Homo sapiens: one gene and its partners. The protein of the gene in region 1 interacts with the protein of each later gene in a biochemical or structural test. Each region holds a gene or a part of one and is shown in the gene's direction. Other genes may lie near its edges. The genes, in order: MYB, CREBBP, NLK and EP300.

Region 1 (7,026 bases):
TTTCAAAAGATGCAGACTTACACCTCTGGGCTTTATAGCTTTTTTTTTTTTTTTTTTTTTTTGCTTTATCATATCGTGTTTTACATTTTTGTAGTTCTTGTTCAGAAGTTGTTTAGTGCCTCCTGTTGACAGTGGAAACAGAACTAGGCTATTGTTTCAAAACACAGACACTAAATGAAAGGAATTATTACAGATTATAAATATATATTTCCTGGGATTTTATTTGGTGGTGGTGGTATTTTAAATTTGGATTACATCATGTCGCCATTCAACCTGGACTATCAGATTGTTGCTTAAAATAATAGCTTTAAATTATGAGAACCCCCAATTCAGGATTTTTGGTAAGCACTTCAGCTTCACTTGTAGGGGGCTGGTAATATGCATACCAGTGAGTTAGTTTGGGAAGACAAAACCTGTAATGAATATAACTTTTCTTTTTAAAAACAATGATTTACATTATGATATGGCTTTATATCATTGTTTTTATTGGTCTTAGTTTAATGGGTTTCCCAACATTGCAATGACAAATTTTAGTGAAGTTTCTAAGATAGTATTTTTCCTATTTTAAGTTTTATAAGAAAAACTATAAAATAAACCGTGTCTGTAAAATTATTGTCATCTGATCAGTTGATTAGATTAACAAACATTATGATTATGATTAACAAACAGTAAGCATATAGTTACTTCTTCAAAAGTCATAAAATTTCCTAGGTTAGGTTAACTAAATAAAAGAAAAAGCTTTCGAAAATAGTAATGGGTTCTTTTAAATCCATGGCTTTTTTCTGGGGAAATCCCTTCTGGATTAGGTTACATTTTATAATATTTCAAACACCATTCCATCAGAGACAGAAAAAACAAGAGTAAGTAAGACTCTGACTAACAAGTGGCCTAATTATTCACTTAGTTACTCTAGAAACTAAGTATTGTAAACATGGGCACAAGTTGGATCAACCAGGCCTGGAGTTGTGAGCAATTTGGTATTAATTTTATTTACAAAACATTAAAGCTTGATCACTCAATGTTCTTATCTTTGCTTTGGTTTTAAAATCCTTTCCTCTTAGATTCTCCTAATCCTCTAGACTTTATGGGATCACTATAATTCTGTTTTGCGCTGTACTACTTCTTGATTTTTTTCTTCTTTTAATAAAACAAAAACCCCATTGGAATAGCATAGTTGAATTGTTTATTATGTTTGAGAAATATTATTTAAACGATGTGACAGATGCCAAAGATTTTGAGTGTGCACTTATATAAAGGACATGGGTTCTTGTTCCTTTTCTTATCCTTAACCTTAAGTTTTCAACTTAAACCTTCACTGGTTGGAAGGTGGCCAAATGTGTAACTTGTCCCTGGTCTAATAGTAACAGCAGGTTCAGACATGCAGGGGAATAGGAAGGTGCCAGGTCCTTGGCCGTGTCTGTGGATACCCATAACAGCAGAACCAGTTTACAATACTAGAGCAACAGAATGCAGCAAACAATCTTGTTGTGCAAGTTTTCAAAGTTTTGTCTTCATAACCTTTGAAAAGATTGTTGAGGAGTTTTGTGTAAGTTTTGTAATCCAGTAGTAGTCTAAATCCTCTTGTTTCAGCCCACGTCTACCCATTCTTATTTCTGCAGCATATATAGCAGTGACGAGGATGATGAGGACTTTGAGATGTGTGACCATGACTATGATGGGCTGCTTCCCAAGTCTGGAAAGCGTCACTTGGGGAAAACAAGGTGGACCCGGGAAGAGGTAACTAATCATTTTATCAAGACGCAGAAAATAGATAGAGTGTATAATTTATAAAAAACAAAATTTCAACTAAACTACAGGTGCTCAAGCTCATTAGCAGGCTCCTTGAGATCTTATCCTAGCCCGCATGTGCAGCGTGCCCTATGCCCCCCACTTCATTATATTATCCATTTCCACACTATTTGCAGTTCTTTGAATGTCCTCTTCTCATTTTAGGCTTCATCTGTGTTTCCTTTTGCCTGTTGAGTTCTCATCCTTTTGTCCCACCTCTTCTTCCTACTTTTACATTACCCATGAAGGCATCACCTCTTCTGTGAAGCCATCCCTGGCTTCGCCGGACAGGATTGGATGCATCCTCCTGTGATCCCATGCATGGGTGCATGTTCTACTTTATTGTTGCTGGGACATATATACCTCCTCCAGCTGACTGCAAGTCTGTTGAGGGCAGGGCTCTTGTCTATTCATCTTTGTGTTTCCTGAATTCACAAATGCTTGGACCCAAAATAGGATATTAATAAATGTTCTCTCAATAAGTGAATGACTTGCTACTCCCAAAAACAAAACAAACAAAAGAATAAAACAAAACACTCAGAGAACTCATCTTTTTACAGTGTATTGATTTAATATCCTTGATATACTTAACAGAGCCATCTATATGAAGGTATGTTTTAAAATCATCCGATAATGGATGGAGACACATCTGCTTCTCCTGTTTCTTTTTCGGCTGGCTTATCAAAAGTTTGATTTTGTAGGAATGGAAAAATATTTTAGAAGCAAAATTATTAATATGTGGAGAAAAGTTTCTCTAATGTTCTTAAAATTTTTGCAACTAATTTTAGATGATTCATGTTACAATAAATGGTATTGGCTCTTCTTCAGTTTCACTGTTCTCTGCTTCATTTAAACCAGAGCTCCTTTTAACAGGCAGGTAGGATTCCCAGAGAGGCCCATAGGAAATTCATATTTTACCTATTAAGATTATCCACTTGGATAATCCTTATGATACGGAAATTCTGTTGTCAACATTGGTTTCCTAATTCTTGTGTCTGTATTGTACCAGGGACCTCCACTGTGTGTGAATGTTACCTTTGCAGAAACATAAGAAGGAATGCATTTATATACTTATGAACTGGTAGGATTGTGAACAGCATATAAACTAAAAGAACTGATTAGCTGGAAATGTTTAATGTCTTTTATGTTCTAACACATCTGGCCTATCTAAATCTAACTGATTTTCTTATATAGCTTTCAAATTTAATTTTAAAAATGGTCTTTATTTCTTTATAAAAAGTTAAACTAACTGGAAATATTCTATTTCTTGCTCAAGATCCTATTTATTACCATAGGTAAATGTGTACTGAATCTAGCACTGGAATGCATTTTTTCCTAACAGAGTAAAGCAGTTATTTATAATAAACACTCAATATATGCCAGGCATTATGATAAATGTTTTGCAAAATTGCCTCATGTAATCCCCAAATAACCCTGTTAATATCAGCCTCATGTTAATAAATTGCCCCATGTAATCCCCAAATAACCCTGTTAATTTCCATTTTATAGATGGCAATACTAAGGCCCAGAAAGGTAAAATGGTATACCCGCTTTACACAATTAATAGTTGAGTCAAGATGCCAACTCTGGTCTGATTCTAAATAAATCTATACTCCCAAGTCCGTATATTACATTAATATCTCCTGTATTCGGATACTTTAGAGAGACTTTTTATTCTAGATTCGTTCCCTCATTCACTTTAACTTGAACAGAGTTATATAGTAAATAACTGATATCCTAGGATTACCTTTAAATGTCTTAGGATGAAAAACTGAAGAAGCTGGTGGAACAGAATGGAACAGATGACTGGAAAGTTATTGCCAATTATCTCCCGGTAAGTTAGTAAGTTTTTCTTATAACGAAAGGAAAGCTTCTCCCAAAGATTTCTATAAAATATTCTAGGAGGAGTTATTAAGATAGTGTATAATTTACTCACATTTAAGAAGTGGGAGAAATGCCCTACCCATAACTTATATTTTATATTATAATGCATATAATTAAATTATTAGAATTTAGATTATTAGAATCGATTATTATAATTTAGATTATCAAATTTTAAAAACAGTTGCTTCTTGTTTTATCTTTTCATTTATAGGATAATTAGTATTTTGATGATTTGTTACATGGTAGTTGATTAAACTTGATATTTCCTCCAAGTCAGTTTTTCCTGAATTCCCTATTTTTGTCAATAGCAATACTTTTGGCACCAAGGTTTAAAATTCTGAAGACCTTTCTTGACTTATCACATTCCCCCAACCCCTACATCTAAGCAGTTACTAAGGACCCTGGAATTCCTTTATAGTCAGTCCCGTCCTTTTCATTCTCATGGCTGTGCTGAAGGTTGGGCTCCTGCCCTCTCATTTGGACTATCATATAACTTCCTAACTGGCTTCCCCACTTGTAGTTTTCCATTTTTCTTTCTTTTTTTTTTTTTTGTTTTTTGTTTTTTGTTTTTTGAGATGGAATCTAGCTTTGTTGCCCAGGCTGGAGTGCAGTGGCACGATCTCAGCTCACTGCAACCTCCGCCTCCCAGGTTCAAGCGATTCTCGTGCCTCAGCCCCCTTAGTAGATGGGATCACAGGTGCCCGCCACCATGCCTGGCTAATTTTTGTATTTTTAGTAGAGACAAGGTTTCACCATATTGATCAGGCTGGTCCCAAACTCCTGACCTCAAGTGATCTGCCCACCTCAGCCTCCCGAAGTGCTAGGATTGCAGGCATGAGCCACCGTGCCCAGCCAGTCTTCTACTTTTCCATTCATCCCAAACACCATTGGCAGGTGGAACTTCCTAAAATGCAGCTGTACCTTATCTTTTCAAAACCAACCACAGTGACAGAATCTCACAAATTAAGTAAACTGCCTTGACTTGGCACACAGAGGCCCTCCTCTATTGCCCCAACTTACAGCTCCAGTTCTGTTTCCTGCTTCCTCTCTCTAAGCAGGTTTGCTTGAATTTATTTCTGCTTTACCTCCTCTGGGCTTTTGCTCCTGGTCTTCCCACCTCCTAGAATATTCTCCCTTTATGTCACCAATTAAAGTTCTGTCCATCCTTCAAAGTCCTTATGAAGAGCTCTTCAAGACTCCTCCCAAGGAAACCATTTCTCCTCCTAAGAAGATGCTTCTCTCCTCACTTCAGTATCATTTTGCTTTGGTCTTTTCTTCCAAGTGAATCAAATTCAGCATCTGTGATAGTCAGTCATCTACTTGTCTTTTCCTTCTTATAAGTTTACAAACTCCTGTAACATAGGACCTATCTTTTATGCATCTTTTTTCTTTCTGCAATATAAATACTTTGGTCCTGGATTGAAGCACATCTCTTGTCTGAATGGGAAGCAAACTTTAGTCTTTTAGGGTGGTTTCCATGAAAGCCTGACAACATAGAATCTCTATCAAGCCTCAGGCTATGTAGATACTCTGCAAAAGTATCTGAGGTTAAGGTTAACTTGGCAGGCACATGTGTAGTATGATGGTCCTTTAGATCATGTGGCAGGAATGTTTCCCTCAGGAGGCAGAGTGTCTAATTTTAGATGCAACTTTGATATATTACTTGCATGTTCTGTAGCCTGTAAGTAATGAGGGATAGATGGGCTCTAAACATGCTCTAAAATGTTCTTAAATATTTTCACTGCATATGGTCTATGTGTGATTCCTATTACAACAAAAAATTCACGTGCTTATCACATCATATCTTTATGGTGGTGCATACTTTATTTGTCTAGAATCGAACAGATGTGCAGTGCCAGCACCGATGGCAGAAAGTACTAAACCCTGAGCTCATCAAGGGTCCTTGGACCAAAGAAGAAGATCAGAGAGTAAGTTCTTTCTTCATTGGTGTGTGACTCATAATTAAGAATATTCCCAAAATGCTAATATTTTCCTATTTGAGGAAGCAGGTAAAATGGGCAAACAGGAAGTAGAGGACTCTATTCCCATATTTCCAGTGAATGAAAGCAAATTTTGGAAATTTTCTAAAGATCTTGTAACACTGAAGAATGATTATACTGACTCATTACATAACTTTAAAACATAGGTTATTTTTGTGTGTTTATCTGAAGGTGATAGAGCTTGTACAGAAATACGGTCCGAAACGTTGGTCTGTTATTGCCAAGCACTTAAAGGGGAGAATTGGAAAACAATGTAGGGAGAGGTGGCATAACCACTTGAATCCAGAAGTTAAGAAAACCTCCTGGACAGAAGAGGAAGACAGAATTATTTACCAGGCACACAAGAGACTGGGGAACAGATGGGCAGAAATCGCAAAGCTACTGCCTGGACGGTAATAATATGTCAAAAAATATATTGATCGGGAAGAATGAGGGAGTGGGTATTGAACATTCTGCTTTAAATGTATGGTGAGTAAATTATATTTCATCAGTCGTAAGTGTTTTATTAGATAAACCAGCTACATAGCTTTTAGAGATTGAAGACATCTTAGAGTTTATTTGGTTGAGAACTTCCAGGATCCACCTGACAGTGAGCCCTGGGTGAAGACATTTAGCTTTCCCCAGCCTCAATTTCCCCATTTCCAAAATGAATCATACAGGGCCAGTGTTAGGATCAAGTAAAATGAATGTCAAAGGACTTGGTAAACTATAAAACTCTAAATGCATAGAAAGAAACTGAAGACAGTTTGTCTCTGGCAGTTCACGTAGCTGGTTAAGTTACTCAAAGGAACTCAGCTACCATTTTCCTGATAACCATCATTCATTTCTTTTATTTTTTTTAATTATTATTTTTTAGAGACAGAGGCTTGTTCTGTCACACATGAGTGACAGAGTGCAGTGGCATGATCATAGCTCAATACATCCTTGAACTCCTGGGCTCAAGGGATCCTCCCACCTCAGCTTCTTGAGTAGCTAGGACTACAGGTGCACCCCACTACACCCAGCTGATTTTAAAATATTTTTTGTAGAGATGGAATCCTGCTATGTTACCCAGGCTGGTATCAAACTCCTGGCCTCAAACAATCCTTTCACCTCCCAAAGTGCTGGGATTATAGGCATGGGCCACCATACCTGGCCACCAGTATTCATTTCATTATACCACTTTGCTTAATTTTTTACTTCATTGATTAAAGAAATAATGTATTTCTTGAATTCTCATACTACTTCCAGGTTTTTAAATAATGTCAGGGTAATAATGCTTTCTTTTTAATGAACAAGGCAAGAAAATGACCTCATTATGAGGGATAACTATGGAAGCTCATTTTGTCCCATTTTTCCCACTTAAGTAGTATAT
Region 2 (7,026 bases), on another chromosome or scaffold:
TTATTCTTAACTTTCCATAACATTTCATTTCTCTAGAACAAGGATTAGCAAACTTCGTGTAAAGGGCCAGATACTAAATATTTTCAGCTTTGCAGGCCATTCAATCTTGGTTTTCATCACTTCTGTTCTTGTAGTGCAGAAGCTGCTGTGGTACATAAATGAGGTGGCTGTGTGCCAATAAAGCTTTATTTACAGAAACAAGCAGCTCAGTGTGTTTGCCCTGGGAGATTGCCAACCCCTGCTCTAGAACAGTGATTCAGAATCATTTTTAAAATGTTCACAAATAATTCTGAAGTGTATCCCCAGTATAGAACCACTGCACTGAAACAGTTCTCTTTCAGTAACTAACGTGTGTGTGTGTGTGTGTGTGTGTGTGTGTGTGTGTGTTTGTGTTTCAGAGAGAATTTTTTTTTTAAATTTTTAATTGTTAAGGGTACTTATGGATGTATATATTTATGGTCAATAACTTTTATTCTTATTTTTATTTATTTATTTTATAGTCCCCAGGGAAGAAGCAACTTAAAAAAAAAATACCTTTTTCTAAGCTAAGCTTAGAAAATGTTAAAGAACATTGGGTACATGTTATAGAACATGAAGCTTATAGGCTGGGTCAATGTACAGTAGCTCCCCCAATCTGTCATTTCACTTTCTGAGGTTTCAGTTACCTGGGGTCAACTGTGGTCCAAAAATATTAAATGGGAAATTCTGGGAATAAACAATTCATAAATTTTAAATTAATTAGCTAGGCATGGTATTGCACGCCTGTAATCCCAGCTACTGAGGAGGCTGAGGCAGGAGAATCACTGGAACCCGGGAGATGGAGGTTGCAGTGAGCCAAGATCATGCCATTGCACTCCAGACTGGGTGACAGAGCGAGACTCTGTCTTTTTTTTTTTAAAAAAAAAAAAAAAAAGTTTTAAATTGAGTGCCATTCCAAGTTGCATGATGAATTCTGTCACCATCCCACTCTGTGCCCCCAGGGATGTGAATCATTTATTTGTCCAGCATTTCCACACTGTAGACACTACCCACCTCTTAGTCACTGAGTGTCCACCTTGGTTGTCAGATCCAAAAATCTTGGTAAATATTGGGTTCAGTACTATCCGCAGTTTCAGGCGTTCCAAGACTGGGGGTCTTGGAATGTATCCGAGTGGATATGAGGGGACTGCTGTAGATGTGTGTGTTTAAGCCATAAGTTTCAATGGTTGTTTTAATTATATAAATCAGACTATAAGAAACGTGTGTAGTTTTACCGTTATTGAGGAGTGCCCATTACAAGTGTATAGCTCGATGAATTTTCACAAGCAGAACACTCCCAAGAAAATGTGATTAAATTCCCATACATTTGGCTGGGCGCGGTGGCTCACGCCTGTAATCCCAGCACTTTGGAAGGCCGAGGCGGGAGGATCACTTGAGGTCAGGAGTTTGAGACCAGCCTGGACAACATGGCAAAACCCGATCTCTACTAAAAACAGAAAAATTAGCTGGGCGTGGTGACGGGCACCTGTAATCCCTGCTACTCGAGAAGCTGAGACAGGAGAATTGCTTGAACCCAGGAGGCGGAGGCTGCAGTGAGCCGAGATCGCACCATTGCATTGCAGCCTGGGCGACAAGAGTGAAACTGTCTCAAAAAAAAAAATTTTTTTTTCATACATTTAATTTTTCAAATGTTTCATCACATTTTCAAACGGGGGAAATAATTTTACCATACTCTGTCCATTTCTGGTAGGGACAGGTGCCTGGTGCTGCTCTTCCTAACCCTCTCAACATGCTGGGGCCTCAGGCCAGCCAGCTACCTTGCCCTCCAGTGACACAGTCACCACTGCACCCAACACCGCCTCCTGCTTCCACGGCTGCTGGCATGCCATCTCTCCAGCACACGACACCACCTGGGATGACTCCTCCCCAGCCAGCAGCTCCCACTCAGCCATCAACTCCTGTGTCGTCTTCCGGGCAGACTCCCACCCCGACTCCTGGCTCAGTGCCCAGTGCTACCCAAACCCAGAGCACCCCTACAGTCCAGGCAGCAGCCCAGGCCCAGGTGACCCCGCAGCCTCAAACCCCAGTTCAGCCCCCGTCTGTGGCTACCCCTCAGTCATCGCAGCAACAGCCGACGCCTGTGCACGCCCAGCCTCCTGGCACACCGGTAAGCCTCTCTGTCTCTGCTGTTTTTGGGCCAAGACTCTTAGAAGATAATTTTCCCATAAAAATTGTGTGTCAGGCCAGGCGCGGTGGTTCACACCTATAATTTCAGCACCTTGGGAGGCCAAGGTGGGAGAATCACTTGAGCCCATGAGTTCAAGACCATCCTGGGCAACATAGTGAGACCTCGTCTCCAGCAAAAAAAAATTTTTTTTAACCAGACAAGCATGGTGGTGTGTGCCTGTAGTCCTGTAGTCCCAGCCACTCAGAAGGCTTAGGTGGGAAGATCACTTGAGCCTAGGAGGTACAGGTTACAGTGAGCCAAGATCACGCCACTGTACTCCAGCCTGGGCAACAGAGCGAGACATTGTCATCTTTTGTTTGTTTACTTAAAACTCCATTGAGGCTGGGCGCGGTGGTTCACGCCTGTAATCCCACTACTTTGGGAGGCTGAGGCAGGCGGATCACCGGAGCTCAGGAGTTCGAGACCAGCCTGGCCAAAGTTGTGAAACCTTGTCTCTACAAAAATATAAAAATTAGCCGGGCATGATGGCTGGTGCCTGTATTCCCAGCTACTCGGGAGGCTGAGGCGGGAGAATCGCTTGAGCCTGGGAGGCAGAAATTGTATCGAGCCGAGATTGCGCCATTGTACTCCAGCCTAGGTGACAGAGTGAGACTCCGTCTCAAAAAAAAAAAAATTCCATTGAGTAAGAATTTGCAAATTAGGAATTCTTTTAGTGGTTCCTTCGTGTAATGTTCATTTACTCCACCAGCACCCGTGTTCCTACCGTTCACACAGGCTGGGTAACACTGTCTTTGGGTAGGCACTTGATTTCCCTCCCTTCAGATGTGCTTAGGCATTCATAATTCAGCCTTTTACCATACACATTAACCACCATATTGAAGGGAATTAATTTCAAAATATGAGATTTCATGATTTAGCTAGAAAACTTCGAGAAAATAAATTTATGTCAAAGTTTGAAAAGCTCTGCTGTTTCCTCTGCCTTTGTGGCAAGACCTGAGTTGTACCTCTGGCTGCTGTTACCTCCCTCTAGAACTCATTCCTACTTTAACCCCTGTTCTTCGGTTTCACAGAAGGGCACCTGCTGGATCAGTATTGAGAAATGTTAATGGGAAATTGTAGGTTGCATGAGCAGCATAGTTGAAGATCATTTATGTTACCTTGCTTACTGAAGTCAGTGCTTTCGGTTTTTTCACAGCTTTCCCAGGCAGCAGCCAGCATTGATAACAGAGTCCCTACCCCCTCCTCGGTGGCCAGCGCAGAAACCAATTCCCAGCAGCCAGGACCTGACGTACCTGTGCTGGAAATGAAGACGGAGACCCAAGCAGAGGACACTGAGCCCGATCCTGGTGAATCCAAAGGGGAGCCCAGGTCTGAGGTGGGTGCCGCTCCCTAGGAATGCATTGACTGCGTATCGCAACTTTACCCAGGTGTCCTCGGGCGAGGCTTGGAGCCTGCCATGGGTATCCCTGACTTTAGTTAAAATATTCTGTTTGAATGTGGGTTCGGGGTTTGGTGTATAGGAAATTGATTGAAAACAGCTTGGTTTTTCATTTTTAAATATGAGGGGTGGGTTTATTTTGCCCGAAATGAAGAATACTGGCTTATATTTGAAATACTTGAATCATCCAACAGCCTTTTATTTTATGTTCTCCATTCATTTCTAGTTCTGCAGAGGTAGACTACAGAAGGGGTGGTGGATTCATTTACTAATTAACCTATGGCAGAAGCTGAAAGCTGGCAGACCGTGGGCTGGATCCAGCCTCTAAATGTGTTTGGCCCACACAATACCTTAAAAATCAGGAAATTGCAAATAAAACTCTAGATTTCTGGCTTTTCTTGAAAAATGAGATGCTTTCAGCATTGTGCCTGCATCCCTGTGTGACAGCAGTCTGGTTGTGAGCACCAACTGTAGTGGGCTCTCCAATTAGCCACAGTCCCCACTGCTCCTTCCTGTCTCATACCACACCTGCCTCTGAGAAGGACTTTTGGTCCCTGCCCCAACTTTCAAGGAGATTTTTATTCCAAATTAGAAATATCTGTAGTGAAAAATCTGAGTATGTGCAATTTTTAAAGCAGTTTTACATTTAAAAACTTTTAAATTAGGCTGGGAGCTGTGGCTCACACCTGTAATCCCAGCACTTTGGGAGGCCGAGGCAGGTGGATCACTTGAGGTCAGGAGTTCGAGACCAGCCTCGCCAACATGATGAAACCCCATATCTACCAAGAATATAAAAAATTAGCCGAGTGTGGTGGCACACACGTGTAATCCCAGCTACTCGGGAGGCTGAGGCAGGAGAATTGCTAGAACCCAGGAGGGGGAGGTTGCAGTGAGCCAAGATCTTGCCATTGCACTCCAGCCTGGGTGTTAGACTCTGTCTCAAAAAAAAAAAAAAAAAAAAAAAAAAAAAAAAACACTTTTAAATTTAGGACCATAATTGCACTGACTCTGTGCTGAAGCGACTTAATGAACACCAAGTACTTTATTTCTTCTTCCGGAAGAGAAGAGGAATCATAAATGCAACTCTGACTAGAGGAAGGTTTTAACAAACCTGTTTTAGGCTTGTAAGAGTCTTCCCGTGAGGTTGCGGTAACATAAAGGTGTTTGATATTCATATGTTATCTGTAATGTTTTTCTCAAGATGATGGAGGAGGATTTGCAAGGAGCTTCCCAAGTTAAAGAAGAAACAGACATAGCAGAGCAGAAATCAGAACCAATGGAAGTGGATGAAAAGAAACCTGAAGTGAAAGTAGAAGTTAAAGAGGAAGAAGAGAGTAGCAGTAACGGCACAGCCTCTCAGTCAACATCTCCTTCGCAGCCGCGCAAAAAAAGTAGGCCATTTATTCATTACCTTATTAAAGCATGCTGCTTTTCCACGGTGTTAGGATTCCATGTGGAGGATTAAAAGCTAAAGTAGAAACATAATTCTATCTGCCCTTTTACCTTTCTTGCCTGCCATTCCCCAGACTTTCCCCTGCAGAAACACTCAGGCTGAGCAGGACCCCTGCCCTGTGCCTGTGGGGCTCATGGCAGGAGTGAGAGATGAGCTGCTGCTCCGAGGGCACCCAGGCTGCAGAGCTGTCTTCTGATGGTGCTGGCAGGGGCCGAGTTGAAATGTGTCTGGGTCCTTGAGCAGGTTAAGGAGCTTGGCTTTACTCATAAAAGTATAAAGAACCAGTGATGTATGTGAGTAGGAGAATAACCAAAAAAGCCATAATTTAAGGAAGATGGTCATTATGACAGCACAGGGTGACTTGGAGGCAGAAGGTTTCTGCAGGTGCAGTGAGGAAGCTGAGCATGCAGAGTGAGGGGCAGGGTGGCGCCTAGGGACCCTGTGTAGTGAGACATGGGGGAGGGGTAGGTTAGGCATCTTTGGGGTCTGAGATGTGTGAGGTAAGCCCGCCTCACAGTGGAAGTTGGATGGAATCCATTTGAGATGTATCCACAGTAAAGAGATAACAGGGTATCAGAAAATTGTCAAGTGAACCTTAGAAATGGGAGACAGGACTCAGAAAGTCCAAGGCTGCAGATGACACTTTTGGGAAAGATTGCAGAGAAATGTTAGAGACTGAGACCATGTTACTCTGCAGCTGGAAGGGACCCTGGAGAGTGTGGAGTACAGTGAATCTCAGGGCTCTTTATACTCTTAGAAATTGAGGGCCCCAGAGAGTTGTTGTGTGGATTATCTATCATTGCTTACTCTACTGGAAACTAAAGTTGAGAAATTTGAGTACAGTGGCTTACACCTGTAATCCCAGCACTTTGGGAGGCTGAGATGGGAGGCTTGCTTGATGCTGGGAGTTCAAAACCAGCCTGAGCAACATAGCAAGGCTCCATCTCTACAAAACTAAAATAAAACTAGCTAAGTGTGGTGGTGCACGCCTATAATTCTAGCTGCTCGAGAAGCGGAAGCGGCAGGATTGCCTGAGCCTAGGAGTTTGAGGCTGCAGTGAGCCCAGATCACATCACTGCACTCTAGCCTGGGAGACAAAAGTGAGATTGTTGTCTGAAAAAAAAAAAGAGAAAAATTTTTAAATATTTAGTTCATTTAAAATAGTCTGTTACATGGCACCCATAGAAAACATTTATATGAAAAACAATTTTTCCAAAACAAAAATAAGTAAGAATAGTGGCGTTATTAAGGGTATCTGCCTCTGCATTTACTGTGTTGTGATTGGTTATTTTGGTTGAAGTGTATGAAGAAAATCCTGTAGTTGGTAAAGGGAGAAGTATTTTCGTAGCCCTTTCAGCTGATTGTGGATATTCTTTGATACTATACCAAAATTCAGCCAGTGAAGGTTTCTTAAAGGTTAGTTGCGACATTGAACCAGAATCTATAGCACTGGATTTTTCATAGTCTGTGACATTAGAATCCATTGATCCATCTTGTACTTGGAATGGATCTTTTGTGCTTGCATGATTTTTTTTTCAATTGACACTTAAGTTCTGCAGATTTTCCATATGTTGACATATTTCACTATACAGTGTCAAAAAAAAATCAACATTTGTTAATACCACCATCAGTCTCTTCAAACAAGTCTTACCAACTTAGAAAAGCAGGGCGTGCATGGTGGCTCACACCCGTAATCTCAGCATTTTGGGAGGCTGAGGGGGAAGGATTGCTTGAGCCCAGGAATTCAGGGTCTATGATTGCACCACTGCACTCTAGCCTGGAGCTCAGGAGTTCGAGAGCAGCCTAGGCAACATGGCGAAACCTAATCTCTATTAAAAAAAAATTAGCTGGGTATGGTAGTGCATGCCTGTAGCTGCAGCTACTCGAGAGGTTGAGGTGGGAGAATCACCTGAGCCTGGGAGGTCAAAGATGCACTGAGCCTTGATCATGTCACTGTACTCCAGCCTA
Region 3 (7,026 bases), on another chromosome or scaffold:
AGTATCTGGGACTACAAGCATGCTCAGCTAATTTCTAAATATTTTGTAGAGAAGAGGTCTCACTATATTGCCCAGGCTGGTTTGAACTCCTGGAGTCAAGTGATCCTTTTGCCTCAGCCCCGCAAAGTGCTGGGATTACAGATGTGAGCCACCGCGCCCGGCCAGGACACAAAGTTTTTTAAGGTTATTTGAAAAAAAAATCTGACCATTATATTGCATAAGGAAATGTTTGCTCTGTGTTGTTGAGATGGAAGCTTTTCCCAATACCCTTTCTGGACTTGACTCTTCTGGAACATACTACAAATTATACTGTAAGTTCAGCTCTTCATTTATTCATTCATCCAAAGAATATTTATTATTCACATCTATGCCAATAACTATTGTCAAAGAAGACTTAAAAATGGAAGCATTTAGTAAAGAAAATTTAACTTGCCAAGAATACAAAGTCACCAAATACGAAAAATACCAGATATTTAAAAGATAAAACAACCACAAAATTACCAAAGTTATTAAGTTTACATTGGTCCATTTGTAGTGAGAAAGCTGCAACTTTCTCAGAAGATATCAAATTCACAAAGCTTCAGACATCAGCACAGCAAAGATTAGGGATAAAAATAATTCTGTTAAGGAGTTCAGGTTTGTGAGAAACAGTCAAGGTTTTTTTATTTGGGGGACCAGAACCAATTAGGGTGACCCAAATTATTTTTGTAATGTCTCAGGGTACAATTTAGATTGCTTATGTGTTTATTTTGGTGTTTTTTGCTGTTGTTTTCTTTTTTGTTTTTTTACTGTGGTGTATTAGTCTGTTTTTACACTGCTGATAAAGACATACCCAAGACTGGGCAATTTACAAAAGAAAGAGGTTTAATTGGACTTAAACCTTAAAGTTCCACATGGCTGGGGAAGCCTCACAATCATGGCGGGAGGTGAGGAGGAGCAAGTCATGTCTATATGGATGGCAGCAGGCAAAGAGAGAGAGCTTGTGCAGGGAAACACCCCTTTTTAATCTGGTCAGATCTCATGAGACTTATTCACTATCACGAGAACAGCACAGGAAAGACCTGCCCCCATCATTCAGTTACCTCCTAGGTCCCTCCCGTAGCATGTGGGAATTCAAGATGAGATTTGGGTGGGGACACAGCCAAACCATACCATGTGGTATGTGAAGTGCTTAGTGATACTATAAGCCTGACAAAGTGGCAGTTCTTGCTCCCACAGTCTCTCTTTGTGATCAAGTTCCCACTATTAAGGACAATTTCAATCATATAACTTGCTTTATTGAGCTAGTGATTTACTATCATTTGATATTTTGTGTTATTTGGTAAGTTTATCTACATAACTAACAGAAGATGTTGATCAATATGTTAAAAAACAAACTCCTTTTATATGGTTAACAAAACTAGAGCTGTGTGAAATTCAGGCTTCAGAGGTAATTTCTGTCTGACCATAGAGGATTTTATAAAGGGTCTAGGATTGAAATTTATGTGTTAGAAATATTTTATTCTCTATTTCTATTTAGATTTGGATCCAAGAACCATGTAACTCACCTCTACCAGGTGTGCATACACTGTTTAGAGCTGTAAGGCATCCTCTTTCTCTGAGATCCCATGTTTTGTTTGGTTTGGTTTGGTTTGGTTTGGTGTTTTTGAGACAGAGTCTCGCTCTGTTGCCCAGGCTGGAGTGCAGCAGCGCAATCTCAGCTCACTGCACCTCCACCTCCCGGGTTCAAGCGATTCTCCTGCCTCAGCCTCCTGAGTAGCTGGGATTACAGGCACGTGCCACCACACCCGGCTAATTTTATATTTTTAGTAGAGATGGGGTTTCACCATGTTGGTCAGGCTGGTCTCAAACTCCTGACCTCATGATCCACCTGCCTTGGCCTCCCAAAATGCTGGGATTACAGGCATGAGCCACCGCACCCAGCCTAGAGATCCCATGTTTATTAATGCTCCCGATCTGCCAGGAAGGTAGTGTTTACAGTCTTTAAGGCTGGAACTTCCTAAGCCATAGAGCAAGTAGTAAGCCCATTTTTCTGGGAGGTCTTTTGTACACAAGTTCTACATGTGACATGTAGTCCTTATTCCTTAACAGTGGGATTATCACACTTAATTAAATGAAATTTGTGGTGTAGTTGTAGTTATAAAGATTTATCTAAGGAGAAAGATTTATCTGGTAAGGAAGAGTATATATTCTTTTGGAACCTATGTAAGTAACTACATAGTCATTTAAAAATAAAGAAATTAGGCTGAGCATAGGGCACAGTGGCTCACACTTGTAATCCCAGCACTTTAGGAGGCTGAGGCAGGAGAATCTCCTGAGCCCAGGAGCTTAAGACCAGCCTGGGCAACTTAGGGATTACAAAATTAAAAATTTTTTAAATTAGCTGGGCGTGGTAGCACATGCCTGTAGTTCCAGCTACTCCAGAAGCTGAGGTGGGAGGATGGCTTGAACCCAGGAGGTTAAGGCCAAGGCCACAGTGAGCCATGAGCTCACCATTGTACTCCATCCTGGCAAGGGAGACAGAGGGAAACCCTGTCTCAAAAAGAAAGAAATTAATTTATTTAATGCACACTACATAATAATTAACCATTTTTATCACTGTGTTATAAACAAAGCCGACAAGTTTGTTACTTTGTTACAGAACTATTTTTAAATTAGCCTGATGCTTTATTAGCTTTTGATCTATATTAAGGATTTTTTTTATTTCCAGTTCTGAGAGTTCAATGAGAACAAGAAACCATTTAAAGAGAGGTTTGTTCTGATTTTAACCTGTTAAATTGAAAGTCAGCAATACATTAAGAAAGAAATGAGGTGTGTTTGTGTGTCAGGGTCTCACTGTGTGACCCAGGCTGGAATGCAGTGGCACGATCTCCGCTCACCACAACCTCCACCTCCTGGGTTCAAGAGATTCTCCTGCCTCAGCCTCCTGAATAGCTGGGATTACAGATGTGCGCCACCACACCCAGCTAATATATTTTTATATTTTTGGTAGAAACAGGATTTCACCGTGTTGACAAAGCTGGTCTCGAACTCCTGACCCACCTTGGCCTCCCAAAGTGCTGGGATTACAGGCGTGAGCCACTTTTTAAATATCCATGAAGAACAGACCATTGACCATAATTAAATCAGTGTATTTATTTAGTCCATTTAGTCTGAGGTAACTAGTTATTCTTGTTTTGTTGATCTTGGGTTAAGCAGTCTACTGCCATCACATGTCTGCTCCTGAACTGAAATGATGACTCAATTACTTGATTCAGTCTAAGAGCAGGTGTCTGTGGTGAGATACACATACACAGACAAACACAGACACACACACACACACACACACACACACACACGCTGAACATCCCTAATTTGGAACTTTGAGTGCCAACATGACACCACAAATGACCTGACCTCAGTGACAGGTCACCATCAAAAAGCAGGCATACAACACACAGTTTGTTCAGTATCCCCAAGGGAAAAAAGACCCCCAGCCTCCTTCAGCTGTGATTCTATCTTCCCCAAGCATATCCAGATTCCCCCATGCAAATGTGCCCACAAAGGGTAATAAAATGGCACATCTGCAGGCCAGATGCACCAATGACAGGTTCCCCACAATGTCCCACATGCTGCCAAGACCTATAGGCATTATTTACTGTATTTTTTGCCTATTCTGTGCTCTTTGGAGTAAAAATATTGTTGAAAATGTCAAAAAGTCCTGCAGATAACCCAGCAGGTAACTGATTTTTTTAAAAAGAGGAAGCATTTCTGTTTATAGCACAGAATGCCAAGCTATTGGAGAAACTGCACAGTGGTGTAAGTGTGAAGCATCTTACAGACAAGTATGTTGTTGGAATGATCACTGTATGTAACCTAAAGGAACAGAAGGATAAACCGTTGAAGTTCTGTCCTGAAACTCATGAACAGAAGTTAAAGAAAAATAGAAGGAAAGGGAAGCCAAGGGCTCAGAGAGGCCTGGGATCAGGCACATACACTGTCAGCCTACTTGTTCCTTTGGGTTCAAACAGTGGAACACTATCCCAGTGGAATCTCTAGGAATCGCTATCAAAGGACTCAGACTTTTTTAGAAAAAAAGAAAAGGAAAAAGTTTACTTGCTAAGAATGCAGGGAAGTCAGACTTCAAAAGAGCTAGATCACCAAATACAAAACATAAACTTATTGAAAGGAAAAAAAAACAAGGTTATCAAGTATACGTTTGCCTGTTCCTGGTAGATAAACACCCGCTTTCTTCTGTGATTATCTTATCTTGAAAGGTCATGACATGCCTTTTTACATCAGCATAGCAAAAATCAGTGATAAAAGTGTTTTTAGGGAATCCGGGCTTATGAGAAACATTTCATTATTATTTGGGAACGAGAACAGTTGTTTTTGGTTTATCTGAGAACAAAAGTGGTTTTCATTTTTAAATTGTGTAATGTGAAGAAGTGCTTGGTCATATTGGAATCAGGGCAAAGTGTGTGTTCTTGTTTTTGTTCTACTGTGTACTAGTGAGTTCATCCTTAAATCTTTAAAATTTACTTTCAGTAATACACGTATGTCTACTGAGCTAAAAGAAGGGACAATTTCTTTAATTTTTTCATGGAGTAATGTTAAAAGTTTAGATTTTCAGGCAAACTTAAAACTCATGCATTCAGTATTCTGATCTAAAGTGACAGAAAATGACTAGGTGCAGTAGCTCATGCCTGCAGTCCCAGCACTTCAGGAGGCCAAGACTGGAGGCCACAAATTCAAGAACACAGTGAGACCCCATCTCTACAAAAAATTTAAAAATAAAGTGCCAGAAAACAAAAAGCTAGACTAGACTTCTGATATTCAGACTGAGCTATATCTCAAAATATGGCAGTCAGACCACTGTCTGCTGCCTAACTCCAGCAGCTTTTGCCATCATCTGTTTGGTATTCTAAGAGAATAAAAATTTCAAGCAACTTTGAAAATTGCCACTGTGAACGCATCTTCAGGATGCTGACACATATTTAGAAAATATAGCCTGTTATTTAAAAGGTAAACGTAACCCCTTCAAAGCACTACATAGTTAAATGTCATGATATTTGTGATTTTTGACCCAGCATACATCTATTTCAATGTAGTAACTTCTTAGAATTTTAGAAGAAAGGCACTTCTAAGTACTTTGTGATGGTAGATAATAACAGTAGTTGTCCTAAATCATACACTCCCTCTGCTGCTATGTTACCCACCTCTAAATTCAATTATCCCTCTTTGGACGGGATGTACTATAAATTATATATATGCTATGTCAAGCAGTTAATGTGTCTTTTGAAAGATCCTATGTGGACAGTCATTTTATCTGTAGTGTTGATGTGCTGGTCTCTAATTTGATTTCAGTCCAAAAGAATATCCGCTAAGGATGCCTTAGCCCACCCCTACCTAGATGAAGGGCGACTACGATATCACACATGTATGTGTAAATGTTGCTTTTCCACCTCCACTGGAAGAGTTTATACCAGTGACTTTGAGCCTGTCACCAATCCCAAATTTGATGACACTTTCGAGAAGAACCTCAGTTCTGTCCGACAGGTTAAAGGTGAGTATCTGTTTTGGCCTTTGGCCAGGCAATATGCCTAGTAACATTTTCCATTAGGTGGCCATGAAGAGCTGAGATCTGGATGGTAACCAAAGCTCCCCTCTATGTTTATTTTACAACCTTGCGTATAGCTGTGTGTCCGGGGCATAACAAAGCATATTTAATATTATATCCAGGGGAAGGTCGGGGAGAGGAATGAATATTTTGTTCTTATTTTCAAAGTTTATTTAGTGAGTATGACTCAAAATATGTTTAATATGTATTCACTCAGTGTCATTTCATTGATTCAAACGTATTGAACTTTATATAACATACAAAGTTCCATAAAGGATAAACATTCACTGAGGGAATTATTCCTTGGACGATGACAAGAGAAGGGAATTTCTGATAGTGTACTCATAAAATTTTGTGGCAGGATCTCCTATTGGAATACAGTGGGAGTAATGACATCCAAAATTCTGAGTGATTTTAGTGTCTACTGTAGGACATTTTACAAGAGAGAGAGTAGTCCCCAAAGTAACCACCTGAAACTATACACCTAGATACCAACTGAGGTCTTTAAGTGATCTTCAAAAAGGCAATAATTGCCAGCAACTTAGAAGAGTTCACCCATAATGCCAAACCTGTGGAGTCTCTCTCAAATTTATAGGCCATTTTACTCTTCCCACTGATGGGGTTGCAGTCTGTGTAATGCCACCAGTAGGTTTCTTATATTTAGCAACAGCTGTCATTTTAGTTTTAGGAAGTTCAGCTGAATTCTGCTTGATAGATGATGTGTGTGTTTGATTTAACTAAACCAGTAGGCAGTGCTTTTCAGATGCTGGCTAGAGTTCGCTGAGAATTCACTGCTCCCGGGCTTGCAAATTGTCATGGATTGTATGATGTTTGTTTTCTCCACAGAAATTATTCATCAGTTCATTTTGGAACAGCAGAAAGGAAACAGAGTGCCTCTCTGCATCAACCCTCAGTCTGCTGCTTTTAAGAGCTTTATTAGGTAACTATATGTATGTAATTCAACATTCTTGTTAGAATTAAAAGGATGCCAGTGTTACTTCATTATTCAGCATATTTGTTTTTATTTAGATAACATAGATAAAAGGTGCAACAGAAAGTTTCTGTTATGAGGTTTGGCTTTAGTCAAAAGTGTATTAAAACTGTAAGCATCTGGGCTGGGCGCGGTAGCTCATGCCTGTAATCCCAGCACTTTGGGAAGCCAAGGCAGACAGATCACCTGAGGTCTGGAGTTCAAGACCAGCCTGACTAACATGGAGAAACCTTGTTTCTTCTAAAAATACAAAATTAGCCAGGCATGGTGGTGCATGCCTGTAACCCCAGCTACTTGGGAGGCTGAGGCAGGAGAATCACTTGAACCCGGGAGGCAGAGGTTGCGGTGAGCCGAGATCGCACCATTGCACTCCAGCCTAGGCAACAAGAGCGAAACTCCATCTCAAAAAAAAAAACAAAAAACTGTAAGCATCACA
Region 4 (7,126 bases), on another chromosome or scaffold:
GGGTGACAGAGCAAGGCTCTGTCTCAAAAAAACAAGAAAACAAACAAACAAAAACAGGCCGGGTGCAGTGGCTCACGCCTGTCATCCCAGCACTTTGGGAGGCCAAGGCGGGCAGATCACGAGGTCAACAGATCTAAACCATCCTGACCAAAATGGTGAAACCCCATCTCTACTAAAAATACAAAAATTAGCTGGATGTGGTGGCGCACACCTGTAGTCCCAGCTACTCGGGAGGCTGAGGCAGGAGAATCACTTGAACCCAGGAGGCAGAGGTTGCAGTGAGCTGAGATGGCGCCATTGCACTCCAACCTGGCAACAGAGCCAGACTCCGTCTCAAAAAAAAAAACAAAAAAAAAAAACTGGGCAAGCAATCTCCCACCAGGAAATGACAGAGCAAGTTTCCAGGTGTCCTCCACATTTCTCATTTCTTTGCTTTGTTTTTTAAAATATTTATTTATTTATTTTAAGAGACAGGATCTCTCACTCTATTGCCCAGGCTGTAGTGCAGTGGCATGATTACACCTCACTGCAGCCTCGACTTCCCAGGCTGAAGTGATTCTCCCATTTCAGTATCTGGAGTAGCTGGACTACAGGTGCTGTGTACACCACCGCGCCTAAGTAATTTTTTTTTTTTAACTTTTGTAGAGATGGGGAATAGGGGGGTCTCTTTATGTTTGCTGGGCTCAAGCGATCCTCCCACCCTCGTCTCCTGAAACGTTGGGATTACAGGCATGAGACACTGTGCCCGACCAACATTCTTTCCTTTGTACTCCTTAGTCTGAATATGGGTATAAACTATTAAAAATAACAAAATTATCCCTGAAGGCCAATCTTGATCTCACTCCTACACATTGAATTCATCCTGTAACAACTTTAAGATAAAGAAGTTCTGTCCTTTTCAATTTGCCTGCTTTTTTTTTTTTTTTGAGACGGAGTCTCGCTCTTTCGCCCAGGCCAGAGTGCAGTGGCGCGATCTCGGCTCACTGCAAGCTCCACCTCCCGGGTTCACGCCATTCTCCTGCCTCAGCCTCCCGAGTAGCTGGGACTACAGGTGCCCGCCACCGTGCCCGGCTAATTTTTTGTATTTTTAGTAGAGACGGGGTTTCACCGTGTTAACCAGGATGGTCTCGATCTCCTGACCTCGTGATCCGCCCGCCTTGGCCTCCCAAAGTGCTGGGATTACAGGCGTGAGCCACCGCACCTGGCCTTTTTTTTTTTTTTTGAGACAGAGTCTCGCTCTGTCGCACAGGCTGGAGTGCAGTGGGCGATCTCTGCTCACTGCAGGCTCTGCCTCCCAGGTTCACGCCATTCTCCTGCCTCAGCCTCCCGAGTAGCTAGGACTACAGGTGCCCGCCACCACGCCCAGCTAATTTTTTTGTGTGTGTTTTTAGTAGAGACGGGGTTTCACCGTGTTGGCCAGGATGGTCTCAATCTCCTGACCTCCTGATCCGCCCTCCTCGGCCTCCCAAAGTGCTGGGATTACAAGCGTGAGCCACCACGCCCGGTTCAATTTGCCTGCTTTTCTACTGCAGTTTGGGTGATCTAGGCCTGATCATTAGAGGACAGATTCCATCCCTGTCAGCAACTTCAATTGCTCCATTAGGATCTTCACTCTTATGTTCTTATTTATTCATCCCAACATTAATTTAAAAAACAAACAGAAACAATATAAAAAAAAAAACAAAGAAAATCCAACAATTTGCAAATACCAGCTACGGAGCATGAGATATGAAATAAAAGAAAAAAAATTTTTTTTTCTTTGGGACAGAGTTTTGCTCTTGTCGCCCAGGCTGGAGTGCAATGGCACAATCTCAGCTCACTGCAACCTCCGCTTCCCGGGTTTAAGAGATTCTCCTACCTCAGCCTCCCAAGTAGCTAGGATTACAGGCGTGCACCACCACACCCGGACAAGTTTTGTATTTTTAGTAGAAACGGGGTTTCACCATGTTGGCCAGGCTTGTCTCGAACTCCTGACCTCAGGTGATCCACTGGCCTCGGCCTCACAAAGTGCTGGGATTACAGGCGTGAGCCACCGTGCCTGGCCGAGAAAAAGCTTTTAACCGTATCAGTAGATACTGGTTTCGGGGTTTCTTTCGGGGTCACTTACACCCCTGCCACCTCCTCCAGTACCAATTTACCCATGGCCAAACACAGGGTGATGTGTAGGAACCTGAAAGCACGTCTCCGACCTCAGCTGCAAAACTGTGGAGTCCCACACACTAGACTTTATATTCCAGCATTTCCTCTCACCATTACATTTTTGCTTTTTTCCATCCTTACATTACCTTTACCACATTTTTGTTTTTCCCATAATTACATTAGATAAGGCAATGGCTAGACGTGGTCTTTTACTAACTTGTTCTATTGGGAGCGGACGAGAAAAAAAAAAAAGACAAACCCTAGAAATGTCTTCAGGTCCCAGCCATGTTTAGGAAAATACTTGAAGGCTTCTGCGGTGAGAGTGCTACCTGGTAAGGGCGTATGGACACACGTGGAGGGCAAGAAATGAATTTGGGTCTGGTGCCGAAACATCTTTCCACTGCTGTGATTTTGTTTTCTGGTCAGAGTAATAATGCTCGTTGTAAAATAAATAAATAAATAATACATAAAAAGGAAAAGGAAAATTCAGAGAAAATGAAAACAACTCGTAATCAACGTGCTTTTTGGATGTGAACTGCTCCCTTTGGGAGGGCAATGGAGAAGTGAGGACGCACTGGGTATCTGGCCCGGAACAGCCGGCAGTGGGTACACCCTGCCTGGTGAATTCGACCGGGGTTTTGGGGGACCCGCCACCCAAGGGCCGAAGAGCAGGGCCGCCCTACGGGCGCTCCCATTTGGCCACCTGAGTGGCGACTTGGCGCCTTCCTCGGAGCAGCTCCGGGGTTCCGTCGTCCCGGTTCCCACTGGTCCCTTACGCAGAGACCAAAGGCAGGAACCTTCCCTCGTAACTATCCACCGACTGAAAATAGATTCTGAGTCCGCCCCCGCCCCTCCCCCCTTAAAATCCTCCCCACTCTTAAAATCCTCCCCTTTAAAGGGAGCCACAGGGTGACGCCGGGGGAGTTTGCGGAAGCGCTAACCGCGTTGGGGCCTAGGGCGGATCCCGTGATTGGGACAGGCCCCGCCCCCGGCTCCACTTCCCCCATTGTGTGAGCGGCTCGGGCCTAGGCCCCGCCCCCCTCCGGAGGCCCGGCCACTCCCCTTTTCCACCCCCCCTTGGCTCATTTCCGGCCGCCGCCGCTACCGCTAGCCTGTAAGGAGGATTCGGCAGAGGGAAGAAACAACAGCCGCCATCTTGTTTGTGTGCTAGGCTGGGGGGGAGAGAGGGCGAGAGAGAGCGGGCGAGAGTGGGCAAGCAGGACGCCGGGCTGAGTGCTAACTGCGGGAGCCAGAGAGTGCGGAGGGGAGTCGGGTCGGAGAGAGGCGGCAGGGGCCGAGACAGTGGCAGGGGGCCCGGGGCGCACGGGCTGAGGCGACCCCCAGCCCCCTCCCGTCCGCACACACCCCCACCGCGGTCCAGCAGCCGGGCCGGCGTCGACGCCTAGGGGGGACCATTACATAACCCCGCGCCCCGCGGCGTCTTCTCCCGCCGCCGCGGGCGGCCCCGAACGGAGCCCCGGGGGGCGGGCGCTCCCAGCACCTGGCCGCCGGCGGTGGGGGCCGTAGCAGCGGCCGTATTTATTTATTTTCCGCGGGAAAGGAAGGCGAAGGAGGGGAGCGCGGCGCGAGGAGGGGCCGCCTGCGCCGCCGCCGGAGCGGGGCCTCCTCGGTGGGCTCCGCGTCGGCGCGGGCGTGCGGGCGGCGCTGCTCGGCCCGGCCCCCTCGGCCCTCTGGTCCGGCCAGCTCCGCTCCCGGCGTCCTTGCCGCGCCTCCGCCGGCCGCCGCGCGATGTGAGGCGGCGGCGCCAGCCTGGCTCTCGGCTCGGGCGAGTTCTCTGCGGCCATTAGGGGCCGGTGCGGCGGCGGCGGCGCGGAGCGCGGCGGCAGGAGGAGGGTTCGGAGGGTGGGGGCGCAGGCCCGGGAGGGGGCACCGGGAGGAGGTGAGTGTCTCTTGTCGCCTCCTCCTCTCCCCCCTTTTCGCCCCCGCCTCCTTGTGGCGATGAGAAGGAGGAGGACAGCGCCGAGGAGGAAGAGGTTGATGGCGGCGGCGGAGCTCCGAGAGACCTCGGCTGGGCAGGGGCCGGCCGTGGCGGGCCGGGGACTGCGCCTCTAGAGCCGCGAGTTCTCGGGAATTCGCCGCAGCGGACGCGCTCGGCGAATTTGTGCTCTTGTGCCCTCCTCCGGGCTTGGGCCCAGGCCCGGCCCCTCGCACTTGCCCTTACCTTTTCTATCGAGTCCGCATCCCTCTCCAGCCACTGCGACCCGGCGAAGAGAAAAAGGAACTTCCCCCACCCCCTCGGGTGCCGTCGGAGCCCCCCAGCCCACCCCTGGGTGCGGCGCGGGGACCCCGGGCCGAAGAAGAGATTTCCTGAGGATTCTGGTTTTCCTCGCTTGTATCTCCGAAAGAATTAAAAATGGCCGAGAATGTGGTGGAACCGGGGCCGCCTTCAGCCAAGCGGCCTAAACTCTCATCTCCGGCCCTCTCGGCGTCCGCCAGCGATGGCACAGGTTAGTTTCGGCAGCCCCGGCCTTCCACGTTCCCTTTAATCTTTTCTACTCGGTGCGCCTTTATTCTTCCATTTTTTTTTTCTTCCTCTCTCTCTAGTTCCCTGCCCCTTAATTAATTTTAAAGGTATTTGAATGAGCTGGTCGAAGACGTCCAGTAGCCCAACCATTTTCTTTGCCTCCTAATACATTGATTGCAACACTATGTCATATCGGTGTGTGTTCTGGAATTAGAGCTCGTAAGTGGGTGCTATATAGAAATGGCCTGTATTGTTGCTCTCATGCAATTTAATTTGGGAAATGCCAATGCATTTGTGTGTAAGAGCTCCTATGCAATTTAAGTTTCATTTTTTTTGTTCTTGGCAAATGAATTTCGAATCCTTTCTCTTTACTGTACTTACTGTGTTTCCTCTACTTTCCACTCTTCGAAATTTTCTCTCCTTTGCAGAATATTTTCTGTTGAGGAATAGGGTGTAAAAAAATCTTGATTTTGTGTGTGCGAGGTCCAAGATTTCAGGTTAGAGGTGAAGTTTAACAATTCTTTTATCTTACCTACCATTCTTAGCTTTTTTTTCCTTTTTCTTCTTATTTGCTTTAAGAATCAATATGGAGCGCAGTTCATTTCACATCTCCCAGTTCTTTGGTGTGAGACCAAAATGTCTGAAACTCTGGGTTTTTAGGTTGGGAGAACAGGGGCATGTTCTTTGCAGTTTGCAGTCACTTTCTCATTTTAGGGGAAATAAGATAAACAATTTTGTGGAGTTACGTACCTGGAAATCAAGGTTAGAAGTTGAAAGAGTTCCAATCATGAACTACAAACGTGAACTGATTGTACAAAAGTTTAAAATGTGCATTAGGTTTGGTGTTTGTGTGTGTCTTTGTCTTTTTACACTTTTAAACATACTTGGAGATCAAGATTTTCGTTTAAAAGCTTTACGACCAGTTCATTCAGTTGTGGACTAGCTCCTTTGTCAGGAGAAGTTCAGGGAGACTTCTTCCATCATCCCTTCATTCTTTTCTTACAGTTAGTTTAATGGTGTTATCCTGATGGGTAAGGACCTTTTCTTTGCTGGGATAATGAAGATGAAGAATGGCTGGCCATCTGACAGTCCACAAGATGTTCCCCTTTACTACGGAGCATCTCTTTAACTCCCTGAGAGCAGGCTCAGCGTCATCCCTCCATCTGCCAGTGAGAGTGCATAATGGAGTTAAATGTACCCTTTGAGTTTGTAGAGAACTTCGAGAGCATGTTTCTAAATAGGCTTCATTTCAGAGGGTGAAAATGGGAAGACAGAGCTAATGCTTTGAATTCGTTGCTTTTATAAGAAAGATGTGAAATGAATTTAAGTTAACCTGCAAAAATTGAGAAGTAGGAATCTTGCGAGTTCCTCTACCTAAGGCTTGTAACATTGATTATGCATGAACTTTGATCTGTACCTATTCTATGAAGGTACTGTAGTCTCCAGGGATTTTTTTAGCTGGTTTTTTCCTTCAGAATTCATACACATACACAAACGTCGTTGTATTCCTTTGCACCTACTAAAGTGCCATTCAGAAACATTTTTTAGATCATCTTTAGAGACTTAATCACCTGTAGATTTTTGTGGTGTTTCTTTCGTATTTGTGTAATGTGGTAGTTTTTGCTTTTTAGTTTTGGTGTAACGTGGTAGTCGATTTTACATTGGAGTTAGCCAGTGACTTGGAACGTAGGGGAAACTTTTTTGTGTACTTTGAGTAGTCCTGATTTGAGCAGTTTCGTCTTGGAGCTGTATTGTTTAAATACTTCTGTTCAGGTGTGCTACTACTTTCTCCATGTCGGTCTGTTTTGCTACTTGAAATATCTTTGAATAATTACAAGAGTTTTAAATGTGTTAAGTGGGCTTTTATAGTTTAAAAAAAAACTCAACATTGAGATTAATTCATTCACTCATAATGCTAAGAGTTTATCTTAGTTACTTTTCTAAATTTTGTAATGAGGGTTAACTTTACCCCCCTCCCCAAATCAAGATTCTACTCCAGGAATTCTTTGGTGTACGGTTTTTAATTGTAACCAGTCTGGGTTTGGGGGAGGGGAGAAGTGAGTATAAAGAAAATACTGTCCCTCTGTTAACTTACTTCAAGTTGGGTACCATTGTAATTTTTTTTTTTTTTTTTTTTTTTTTGAGATGGAGTCTCATTCTGTCACCCAGGCTGGAGTGCAGTGGTGCGATCTCACTACAACCTCTGCCTCCTGGGTTAAAGCAGTTCTGTCTCAGCCTCCCTAGTAGCTAGGACTACAGGCGCAGACCACCACGCCTGGCTGATTTTTGTATTTTTAGTTGAGACAGGATTTCACCATATTGGTCAGGCTGGTCTCGATCTCCTGCCCTCAAGTGATCCACCCACCTTGGCCTCCCGAAGTGCTGGGGTTACAGGTATGAGCCGCCCGGCCAGAGGTACCATTATATCTTGAATTTTTTTTTTTTGACATTCTGCAGTTTGTAATATGTTTGCAGGTAACTTTTATTGGAGGCACATCACCT

Evidence for each region.
Region 2: the proteins of MYB (region 1) and CREBBP form a complex in vitro, tested with the Homo sapiens proteins (6 studies listed by BioGRID, with this or other methods).
Region 3: of the proteins of MYB (region 1) and NLK, one has a biochemical effect on the other in vitro, tested with the Homo sapiens proteins (2 studies listed by BioGRID, with this or other methods).
Region 4: the proteins of MYB (region 1) and EP300 form a complex in vitro, tested with the Homo sapiens proteins (3 studies listed by BioGRID, with this or other methods).

Annotation. Positions count from the first base shown.
Region 1 is NC_000006.12:135,184,284-135,191,309, forward strand, and holds part of MYB (transcriptional activator Myb), read left to right. Parts: intron 1-1,619; coding exon 1,620-1,737; intron 1,738-3,550; coding exon 3,551-3,622; intron 3,623-5,507; coding exon 5,508-5,600; intron 5,601-5,843; coding exon 5,844-6,064; intron 6,065-7,026. UniProt on the Homo sapiens protein: Transcriptional activator; DNA-binding protein that specifically recognize the sequence 5'-YAAC[GT]G-3'. Plays an important role in the control of proliferation and differentiation of hematopoietic progenitor cells.
Region 2 is NC_000016.10:3,765,690-3,772,715, reverse strand, and holds part of CREBBP (CREB-binding protein), read left to right. Parts: intron 1-1,729; coding exon 1,730-2,146; intron 2,147-3,362; coding exon 3,363-3,542; intron 3,543-4,806; coding exon 4,807-4,996; intron 4,997-7,026. UniProt on the Homo sapiens protein: Acetylates histones, giving a specific tag for transcriptional activation. Mediates acetylation of histone H3 at 'Lys-18' and 'Lys-27' (H3K18ac and H3K27ac, respectively).
Region 3 is NC_000017.11:28,185,675-28,192,700, forward strand, and holds part of NLK (serine/threonine-protein kinase NLK), read left to right. Parts: intron 1-5,346; coding exon 5,347-5,545; intron 5,546-6,445; coding exon 6,446-6,539; intron 6,540-7,026. UniProt on the Homo sapiens protein: Serine/threonine-protein kinase that regulates a number of transcription factors with key roles in cell fate determination. Positive effector of the non-canonical Wnt signaling pathway, acting downstream of WNT5A, MAP3K7/TAK1 and HIPK2.
Region 4 is NC_000022.11:41,088,492-41,095,617, forward strand, and holds the start of EP300 (histone acetyltransferase p300), read left to right. Parts: upstream 1-4,100; 5' UTR 4,101-4,513; coding exon 4,514-4,607; intron 4,608-7,126. UniProt on the Homo sapiens protein: Functions as a histone acetyltransferase and regulates transcription via chromatin remodeling. Acetylates all four core histones in nucleosomes. Histone acetylation gives an epigenetic tag for transcriptional activation.